3 linked regions of the Homo sapiens genome follow. The protein of the gene in region 1 purifies or fractionates together with the protein of each later gene. This does not show direct contact. Each region holds a gene or a part of one and is shown in the gene's direction. Other genes may lie near its edges. The genes, in order: ZNF8, MRRF and NFX1.

The links.
Region 2: the proteins of ZNF8 (region 1) and MRRF purify together in Homo sapiens (affinity purification with mass spectrometry; one large-scale study listed by BioGRID and IntAct). This does not show direct contact.
Region 3: the proteins of ZNF8 (region 1) and NFX1 purify together in Homo sapiens (co-immunoprecipitation; one large-scale study listed by IntAct). This does not show direct contact.

What each region holds. Positions count from the first base shown.
Region 1 is NC_000019.10:58,277,374-58,281,125, forward strand, and holds the start of ZNF8 (zinc finger protein 8), read left to right. Parts: upstream 1-1,581; 5' UTR 1,582-1,708; coding exon 1,709-1,774; exon of another isoform or gene 1,775-3,236; intron 3,237-3,752. UniProt on the Homo sapiens protein: Transcriptional repressor. May modulate BMP and TGF-beta signal transduction, through its interaction with SMAD proteins.
Region 2 is NC_000009.12:122,323,867-122,327,518, forward strand, and holds part of MRRF (ribosome-recycling factor, mitochondrial isoform 1 precursor), read left to right. Parts: 3' UTR 1-3,652. UniProt on the Homo sapiens protein: Responsible for the disassembly of ribosomes from messenger RNA at the termination of mitochondrial protein biosynthesis. Acts in collaboration with GFM2. Promotes mitochondrial ribosome recycling by dissolution of intersubunit contacts.
Region 3 is NC_000009.12:33,296,881-33,300,532, forward strand, and holds part of NFX1 (transcriptional repressor NF-X1), read left to right. Parts: intron 1-3,652. UniProt on the Homo sapiens protein: Binds to the X-box motif of MHC class II genes and represses their expression. May play an important role in regulating the duration of an inflammatory response by limiting the period in which MHC class II molecules are induced by interferon-gamma.

The sequences.
Region 1 (3,752 bases):
CATGGTTGATCTTCAGTCCCTCAGACTACACCATCAGCCCCATGGGGGTGAGCAAATAACAAGTAACTATACTGTTCCCTGCTATGTGTCTGGCTCTTGGTAAAATTTAAAAAAGTTAAAAATTGTTGTGGTTTGAATGCAACATTTTTGAATGGAAATCTGCTTCCCCATTTTTCTTTTTTAATAACTTTTTATTTTTTTTTTGAGACGGAGTCTTGCTCTGTCACCCAGGCTGGAGTGCAGTGGCCTGACCTCGGCTCACGGCAACCTCCGCCTCCCAGGTTCAAGCGATTCTCCTGCCTCAGCCTCCCGAGAAGCTGGGACTACAGGTGCCCGCCACCACGCCGGGCTAATTTTTGTATTTTTAGTAGAGACGGGGTTTCACCATATTGGCCAGGTTGGTCTCGAGCTCCTGACATCGTGATCCACCCGCCTCGACTTCCCAAAGTGCTGGGATTATAGGCGTTAGCCACCGCGCCCGACCTTTAATAAACATTTTAATGGACTACAACAGACCCACAGAAAAAGACACATCACAAAGTGAACACCCACAGGGAGAAGCAATAGGGCTGTCAGAGGCATTCGACCCAGAGCGACTCCATTTTGAGTGAGGGCTAGGAAAATGAGGCTGGGCTGCATTCCCAGAAAAGTAGGTATTCCTAACCTCTAGATGTTTACGGTTAAGGGAACAAATTAATAATGGGTACTAAAACAGACCCAGACTTGGGAGTGTCCAGATATCCCGGTATCTAGAGAACAAAGGCATTCCTAATTTTGCTTTAAAAATAATATCGATTCTTGAAAAATACAGTAAGAAAATTAATCCTTTTTCACAAACCCTTGTAGCAGAGCACATCTCCCCAAAATCTATTTTTAGCCCAAATATACACAAGCATTGTACCTAGGGTGCATACGTTCCTCTTACTTTCAGGAACGTCCTACTGTCTATGGGGTAGCTGTTTCACAACTTTACTTTCTCAACAAACTTGCTTTTACTTTGCACTGCGGACTCGCCCTGAATTTTTTCTTGCGCGAGATCCAAGAACCCTCCCTTGGGGTCTGAATCGGACCCCTTTCCTGTAACACAACCACCGCTCCCAGCCTCCCCGCTTCCAGCCGCTAAGCCCAAAGTCTTTTATATGAACAAACCTCTAACTCGTCCTGTGACTTTGATGCGTGTGCGTTTTAGGCACCGGGGAGCAGAGGGTAAAGCGGCGCAGCTCCGGGCCTCCTCCCGCGCAAGTTCCCGAGAAGAGCAGGTCCGGCCCGCGCAGACGTGCACGGTCCCCAGCCATTAGGAGGAGCAGACGGTCCCCACCCCCACAATCAGTCATCTCTCGGGGTCCGCCCTTGCTTCCTGCCCACGAGTGAGGCCTCTGGTTGCCCGCAACCTAAGGGGCATCGCAGCCCCGAGCAACACCGCCCCCACCAGCCTTAGCTGAGTGCTCCCATTGGCCAGAGGCCAGCGGGTGGGGGCTCCCATTGGCCATCGGCCATAATGCTTCCATTGGTCGAAGGCCAGACCAGCGGAGACTCCCATTGGCCGAGGGCTGTGGTTCGCCGCACGGCCTACTGGGAGTTGTAGTCGCCGCGTCGCCGGTGCGGCCGCCATTGTCCGGCGTTCGGCGAGTCGGGTGGTCCCTTTGGCTGGAGTGCCTCTCTGGTCTGGGGATCACCTCAGGCGCTGTCCTTCACTGGGCGATCCAGCATGGACCCCGAGGACGAAGGGGTAGCGGGAGTGATGTCTGTGGGGCCGCCGGCGGCCCGGCTTCAGGTAACAATAACAACAATAACGACGGCGGCGGGCTCCGGGCAAGCGTCTCCCGCGCAGACTGACCCTTTCACCTCGCGGCGCGATGAGAGCGGCACCGCTGTTAATGCCCTTGACACGTGGGGAAACTCAGACGCGGGTCGGGGCGTGGTGACCGTCCTGGCTGGTCAGAGAGGGGGCCGGGATTCCAACCAGGCGCCTGGCCCCCGAATGCGCATGCTCCACGCGGCTCTGTCCTCCCCAGGGCTGGGGTCGGTCATTCCCGAGAGAATCGAGCAGGCCCATCTCCTGCGTTCTGCTCCGCCCCGCCGACACCCTTGCCCATTCCAGGAAGGTCTGTCCTCGTGTTGACTGATAACAGTAATTGTAGCGTTGGCCGGGTGCCCAGATGGCAAGAATCATCGAATAGAGATGCTTTAACGCGTGGAGTCAGCGGACACCCACCGGGACCCCAGCACCGCGGAGCCCCTGCCCTGGGGCTTGGGCACAACCTCTTGGGGGCAATGATGGGTCACCACGCACTGAGTGTGATGAGAGTGACCACCAGGGTCGTCCCCTGCGAGACTGTGGGAGAACTGCAGTGCAGGGCGGTCAGTGTTTGCAGGGCCATCTGGCCATCAGAGCTCCACTTTCTAGACAAAGTGGTTGCGGCCTGTGTTCTCCATAAAGCTGCCTCGCGTGGCAGGAAACAACAATAATTATCCTTCCTCAAGCTCTGCAACTTTGAAATTATACTTTTTTTTATTTTTTGTCGTTGGTTTGTTCATGGGGATTTGCATTATTTCAGATTTGGTACACAAAGTGAGACTTGATAATCTTAGGTTGCAGGTTTTCAGATGTGTGTTGCTCCAAATTTGCATGAAATGCTACCACGTTTTATTTTGTTCTTGCTGTGGATGGGGGACAAGGAATGAGTCGTAAGAAAGGCTTGAGAGAAAGTGTATTAGTTACCTGTTGCTGTGTAACTCAAAACTTCGTGACCTGGAACAACAATAAATATCTCACGAGTTCTGACAGGAGTAATGGAATGTCCTAGCTGGTGGTTCTGGTTCAGGCCCATGAAGTTACAGTGAAGATGTCAGCATAGCTGTTGTCACCTGAGACCTGAGTCTGGAGGATCCACCTCCAGGATGGCTCACTCACATGTCTGTTGATAGGAGACCTCAGTTGTTCTCCATGTAGGCCTCTCTTTGGAACTGCTAGGGATCCTTGCAACATGGCATCTGGCTTCCCACAGAACAAGTGATCCAGGAGAGGGCAAGGTAGAAACTGTAACACCTTCCATGACCTGGATTCAGAATTCACACTCTTGTCACTTCCACGGTGTCTTACTGGTTACAAAGTCAACCTTGTTGAGTGTTGGAGGGGACCACACCAGGGCTGGAGGTCATTGGCAGAGGTGGTGGGGGAGCATCTTGGAGACTGTCCATCACAGGAGACAAGGACCAGAATGGAGAGCTTCAAGGTCCAGTGTTTTATCTGGTTATCTGTGTCTGCTGTAACAATTCACTACAAATTTTGTGGCTTAAAACATTTGTTCTTAGGTTCTGGAGGTCAGAAGTCTGAAATCGGTTTTCTGGTCTGGAATCAAGGTATGAGCAGAGCTACCCTCCCTACCAAGGTTCTAGGGTAGAATGTTTCCTCGTCTTTTCCAGCTGTGAGAGGTACAGACCTTCTATTCCTTGCCTCATGGCCCTTTGCCTGTCTTCAAAGCCTGCATTGTAGCATGTTGCTTCAGTGATCATATTGCCTTATGTCTTCTATAGTCATAGCTCCCTTTGTCTACCTCTTATAAAGACACTTGTGATTGCATTTAGGGCCCACCTGGATAATCCAGGATAATTTTTCTGTTTGAAAATCCTAATCACATCTGCACAGTTCCTTTTACCATATATAGTAATATTCACAGGTTCTAGGAACTAGGACCTGGATATCCTTGGAGGCCATTATATATCTCAGTCTACCATAGCCAGGCTGAGAG
Region 2 (3,652 bases), on another chromosome or scaffold:
TACATAGAGGTGAAGTTTCTTGTGCAGGGTTACACACCTAGCAAGTAGCAGAGCTGGCATTCAAATTGAGGCCTGATGTGCTAATGTAAAAGGAAAAAAACAAACTTTTTTTCCTTTTGTACTTTCACACTCAACATGGAACACTTCTGTGACAAGGTGTGTGAGTTTGTTTCCCCCACACACCAAGCAATTCTCCAGCAGACACCAACTGGGTATCCTATAATTCAATTCATTTCTGACATTACCTGGAAATAGTGTCAGATCCCACAGGTTGAGGGCTCCATCTCCCAAGACTGCCAACACTTTTGATGCCAGTCATGAGTCTGGGCCACCCATACTCCTGACTGACCAACTACAAACTAGAGTCCTTGATTTCCTTTGGTTCAGTTAATTTCCTAGGACAGCTCACACAACTCAGGGAAACACGTTCACTGGTTTATTATAAAAGATACAGCTGAACAGCCCAATGAAGGAGGTACACAGGGCAAGGTTGAGGGAGAGGGAGAGGGTGTGGAGCTTCCATGCCTTCTCTGGGCTCACACTCTCTCAGCACCTCACCAATCTGGAAGGAACCACTGTGTCCTGCTGCCTTCATTAGCATTTAGTGAGCACCAATTGTTTGTCAGGTGCTGAACTATGTACTGGCAATACAAAAATGGGAAAGATATGACCCCTGTTTTGGGGGGGTACATAGTGCACTGAACTAAATTGCTGTCTATAATAATCTATTGGGTGGAAAAGTAGGAAGTTCATTCCAGTTCTGCAAGGTGTCTGCTTTCAGAATGGAGCCCACTTTGGTGGTGGCAAGGCCTGGCTGAGTTCTTTCAAAGCAACATCCAACTTCTCTTTGCTCTTTGACTTCCTCCAGATTCTCTCCTGTGCTGGAGGTAATAAGGGTTGCACTTCCCTCTTTACTTACACTGGTGAAACATGCAGTGAGGATTCAAGGTCAAAATTGGGTCAAAGTTAAACTAACACAGTCTCCTGCCCCACTTACCTGTCCTCTAACCCCATCCACCAGCCCTAAGTGGTCATCACATGATCAGAAGTCAGCTGGGGGAAGAGCAGGGATAGATAGAGCAATTAAGGAGCCTCTTTTGGGGTAAGCCACATGACAGGGGCTTTGCAACAGTCTTTCATGAGTGGCCGAAATCCCCCACTCACTGCAAATGTGCTTCTCAAAGATGCAGGATTTTTTAATAAACAGAGGAAATGATAAATTATGTTGTAATTCCACTCCAAAGGCATTTGGTTCTTAACAGCCAAATCCTCTGTAGTCTTTAAATAAACAAAAACTTATTTGGTGAACAGACAGGGAGGAAAATGAAAGATTTTCTGTACTTGGGTTCCACATGTCAACAATTTCTCTCCTGTGTGTATGTTGGCCAAAGCTGTATCATGATAAATGAATAAAGGAAAACCTCGAGCCCAGGGCAGTCAGACAGCTCAGCAAATGGCTTTCAGATGATTACTCAATTTCAGTTGACATTTATCAAAGAGTTTCTCTGTGACTCTGTGTCAGGGCTGTAGTGGTGACAGGGACAAGAATGAGACTACCTGTTTGGATGTGCTGAGAATGAGTAATGCTGGAGCAATTCATTCTCCATCTCTTCTCTCCTACAGCCTCTCTCAAAAAGAAACACTGGGTATGGAAATTCTCACACTTGCCAGAAGAATTAACCACCTCTTCTATTCAGTTTAATGACTTTCAAAGTCCTATGAAATATTCAGGCCAGAGAGAATTTGAGAATTTTTTTCCTGTCTGGTGTGTGTGTGTGTGTGTGTGTGTGTGTGTGTGTGTGTGTGTGTGTGTGTGTGTTGGAAATTACAAAATAAGTTGGAATGCAGAAAGTTAAAAAAAAAATCTCACCAGGCCCTACTCCTTTAAAATTAGGTATATATCTTTCCAGACCTCCTTTCTCTGTGCATATATGTGTGTGTGTGTGTGTGTGTTCGTTTCATTTTGTTTTGCCTTTGAGACAGTGTCTCACTCTGTCGCCCATCATGCAGTGGCACAATCATAGCTCACTGCAGCCTTGAACTCTTTGGCTCATGCAATTCTCCCACCTCAGCCTCCTGAGTAGCTGGGACTGCAGCTATGCACCACCACACCTGGCTTTTTTTTTTTTGCTTTGTTTCCTAGGCTGGTCTCAAACACCTGGCCTCAAGCGGTCCTTCTGCCTCAGCCTCCCAAAGCGCTGGGATTACAAGTGTGAGCCACTCTGCCTGGCCATATATAATTTTTTTTTTTTTTTTTTTGCAATGGAGTCTTGCTCTGTCGCCCACGCTGGAGTGCATTGGCGCAATCTCGGCTCACTGCAACCTCTGCCTCCCTGGTTCAAGCAGTTTTCCCTGCTTCAGCCTCCTGAGTAGCTGGGATTACAGGCGCCCGCCACCACACCCAGCTAATTTTTTATTTTTTTTTAGTAGAGATGGGGTTTCACCATGTTGGCCAGGCTGGTCTTGAACTCCTGACTCAGGTGATCCACCTGTCTCAGCCTCCCAAATTGCTGGGATTACAGGCATGAACCACTGCGCCCGGCCATATAATTTTTTAGAAGGAGAGAGGGGAACTATTCATATTCTGATGTTTGCTTTTTTTTCTTACCCTGTAACAATCATGGTCATCTGTCCATGTGTGTACATAATAGATACAATTTATTATTTCATTGTGATACAGTATTCCATAATATGGGTCTACCATAACTTAATTCACTATTAGCCCATGACACTATTTAAAAATTATTTCACATGCATTGGAGAATGTTTAAAGATGATTTTTTTTTTTAAGAAAAAAGAAAGGCCCCTATTCTAAGATTATCTGATAAGGTCTGCTCTTTCTCCTTCAACCTCAGGCTAACATTTATTGAATGCCTACAGTCGGCCAGGTTCCATGCTAGACCCTTTACACGTGTTCCCACATTGAAACTTCTGATGAATCCTTGTTAATGTAGGTGTTATGATTATCTGTGTTTTTCTGTGAAAAAAACAGGTTCAGAAAGGATATTTAACTTGCCCAAGGTCACACAGGTAGTAAGTGCTAGAATGAAATTTCAAACCCACATCTGACCTTGAAGTAGGTCCTTAATCAGTGTGCTTTGGTTCCCAAGTCTTCGCTGAACACTTACTCAAAAGGGACCTCGCGCTGTTCTGGACCTGGACGGTGATGTGAGAGAAGCAGAAGTCTTGCTTTCATAAAACACATAGCAAGCTGTTCCTAATTAATGACTGCAAGTAAAATAGCATAGTACCTGGCACATTGTAAACACCAAAGAAATGGTAGCTCTTATGGAGACAGTAAAGATTACATATTAATCCCCCACCTGTTTGGCCAACTTCTCTAGAATATGTCAGAGAGCAAGCAAAATGTTCACCAAGCAGTGAATAATGATAATAATAACAACAATAACAGTATTGACAGATCAGTAACTAATATTTGCTTGGTGCTTTTTAGTTTTCAAACTGCTTCTACATTCTTTGTTGCATTGAAACCACTCAGTGAAACTTTGCGGTTAGACAAAGAGTGATCATAAAAGCTTGTATCCTCAAAAGCCACTTTGAGGCTTTCTTTTGCCCTAATAGACGGTCATTTTTCATGATGTGCATTTGAAATGATATGTTCCCTATTTTGGGGGTACAAATTTTGATATGT
Region 3 (3,652 bases), on another chromosome or scaffold:
CTTCATTGTCCTCCACTAGTCTGTAAGCTCCTTAAAAACAGACACTGTATATTTCTTTTCTTTTTTTGTGACCCTGCTGCCCCACACAGCTCTTGAAACATAGTAGGTACTCAGTTCTGACCATTAAAAAGTTCATCCTTATATTGAACTGAAAGCTTCTTTCCTTTCCTTCCTATCCTTTGGTTCAAGTTTTATCCTCCGGAGCAGCATAGTAACTAGTCTGTCTTCTCACAGCTCCCCCTCTCCTTACTGCAAATCAGCTTTTTGCAGTATTCGAAGACATCTATCATTTTGCCCTAAGTGTATATTTCATCAAGCTGAATAGTTTTATTCTGCTAGCTCTTCCTCCTGGACCTTCACTATCTTAATCCCTCTCCAGTTTAATGTGAGATACAGCCCAACCCTTGAAGCCACCATCTACCCAGGGCCTGTTTTTACACCAGCCTATAGTTCTAGTTTCTTGCTTTATCAGGATTATTCTTGGAACCTCAATGTATATGTGAAGCAAAGCAATGTTATACCAGAGTTGTTACTGAATCCTTAAGGCTGGTTAATAATTACCTCTTGCTTTATAGTGAATTATCACAATGTAGTGGCTTATGATAACACACATTTACTATGCCACTGTTTCTGTGGGTCAGATGAATGGGTCCTGGTTAGCTGGGTTCTCTGCTCAGTGTCTCCAAATTTGGCTAGGCATGTGATCTCATCTGAGGCTCAGGGTTCTCTTTCAGTCACTGGTTGTTGGTAGGATTCAGTTCCTTACAGATGTAGGACTGAGGTTCCTGTTTTCTTGCTGGCTGTTGGCCAGGGGTGTCTCTCTCAGCTCCTAGAGGCCACCTGTGTTTCCCTGCCACATGACTCTGTACACAACATGATAGTTTGCTTCTTTGAGGCCTGCGGGAAAGCAGCTGCTGCCACTTCAGATCTCTCTGACTTCTGTTTGATTTTCAACTCTTTTAAAATGGCTTACTTGATTAAGTCAGGCCCACCCATACTCAAGGGGAGGAGATTATATAGGGTATGCATACCAGGGAGGTGGGAATCTGGAAGACCATCTTAGAATTCTATTTAACAAATCTCTTGGGGCCTTAACATTCTCACATTATTCATATCATTTTTGAGAACACTTCATTCATATTTGTTGCATAAATACTATATACCAAGCACTGTTCTAGGTACAGGGAATGCTGATGGAATTTACATTCTGGTAGGGAAGACAGGCAGAAAGCACTTAGATATTTAATATGTCAGGTGGTGATAAGGACTAAAAAGAAATATTAAGAAGGTTAAGAAGACAGAGTGACAAGAGTGCTATTTTACATAGGTTGACCTCTTTGATAAGGAGACATTTGAACAGAGACAAGAATGAAGTACAGAAATGCACCATGTGGCTAGCTTGAGAAAGAGCATTCTAGGCAGAGGGAGGAGCAAATTTAGATGTGGGGAGGGGTATTATAGGCAATGAAGATAGGGGCAGGAAAGGTGGTCAGAGAAATAGCAAGGGCTGGATCATGTGAGTCCCTTGGATTTGGTTCTGAGTAAGATGAGAGGCTGCTGGAAGGTCCTGGGAAGAGGGATGTCATGAACTTACATTCTAAAATAATCACTTAGGGTCTGGATGTGGTGGCTCACATCTGTAATCCCAGCACTTTGGAAGGCCAAGGCAGAAGGATTGCTTAAGCCCAGGAGTTCAAGACCTGCCTGGACAACTTAATGAGACCCCATCTCTGCAAAAGGCAAAAAAATAAAAATTAGCTGGACGTGGTGGCACATGCCTATAGTCCCAGCTACTCAAGAGGTTGAACTAGGAGGATCGCTTGAGCCCAGTGGGTCAAGGCTGCAGTAAGTAGTGGTTGTGCCACTGCACTCTAGCCTGGGTGACAGAATAAGAACCTGTCTCAAAAAAAAAAATATTATTAAGCTGCTGTGTGGAGAATAGGCTCTAAGAAGGCAACAGGACAAGTTAGGAGGCTATTGCAGTTGTTCAGGTAGGAGATGATGGAGACTTAGACTGGAGTAATAGTGTGGAAAAGGTAACAATTGGATAGATTTTGGATGTATTTGGAAGGAAGATTTTATGCCTGAGCAACTTAAAAGAATGGAATTGGCATTTACTGAAGTGTCAAAGCCTAGTAGAGAAAAAGGTGTTTGTCTGTAAAATGTTTCAGTTTGGAATAATTTCAGATTTATAGAAAAGTTGCAAAGATAGTTCAAAGAATTCCCATATATCTTTCACCCAACTTCCTCTAATGTTAACGTCTTACATAACCAGACTGCCTTTGTTAAAACTAAGAAATTAGCACTGGTATAATCATATTAACTAAACTACAGATGTTATTCAGATTTCACCAGTTTTTCTGCCAATGTCCTTTTTCTGTTTGAGGACCCAATCCAGGATACCACGTTGCATTTAGTCATGTCTCCTGAGTCTCCTACCATCTCTGACAGTTTCTTCATCTTTCCTTTTTGGAAAAGATGTTTCTGCTCTTGTTTTATTTACTTCTTATTCAGGGAAGATTTTTGTTTAATTTGGTTAAATTTCTGTAATCCCAGTACTTTGGGAAACCGAGTCAAGAGGATCACCTGAGCCCAGGAGTTCAAGACCATCCTGGGCAACAGAGGTAGACCCCATCTCTACAAAAACTAACAAAAAAATCAGCCAGGTATAGTGGCACACGCTTGTGGTCCCAGCTACTCAGGATGCTGAGGTGGGAGGATCGCTTGGGCCCAGGAGTTTGAAGATGCAGTGAGCCACGATCATGCCACTGCACTCGAGCCTAAACTTTGGTGACGCCTGTAACTTTCACAGAAAGAGGTTGTGGAACAGACTAAATATCACTCATTTATTCCTTTATCCATGAATTTAACAAATATTTAATGGAGCACCTAGTATATGCCAGACACTGGAAATACTACACTCAGCAAGGTAGACAAAACTCTCCCTTCTCCTGAGCTTTCAGTCTCAGGGTGTTCTCTATTTCTTTTGACATTAAACTGAACAATCAGAAAGTAAATCTTAGGAGAGCCAATATTATGGAATATTACAGTGTGCGCTTTTGAGTCAGATAGTTTGACAAGTTTGAATTTTGACTTTTAAATTTCTAGTTGTGTGACCTTGGATAAATGATCTAACTACATGAAGCCAGTTTCTTCATCTGTAAAATGGTACCTATGTTATAGCATTTTTTTTTTTTTTTTTTTTTTTTTTGAGACGGAGTCTCACTCTGGAGTGCAGTGGTGCAATCTCGGCTCACTGCAACCTCCGCCCCCGGGTTCAAGAGATTCTCCTGCCTCATCCTCCTTGGATTACTACTGGGATTACAGCCACACTCCACCACGCCCAGCTAATTTTTGTATTCTTAGTAGAGATGGGGTTTCACCATGTTGGCCAGGATGGTCTTGATCTCCCGACCTCATGATCTGCCCGCCTTGGCCTCCCAAAGTGCTGGTATTACAGGTGTAAGCCACCGTGTCCAACCTGTTACAGCCTTTTTGAGAGGACTAAATAATAATATGTAATGTGCTTGCAATGTTGTATTTAAGGTTAATTTTATTCTTTTAACTTATTTAGACCTGAAAGCAAATAACAATAATATTATGAAATAAATGCAGTGCTAAAAGTATGTACTCAAAAAAGCATATACACACA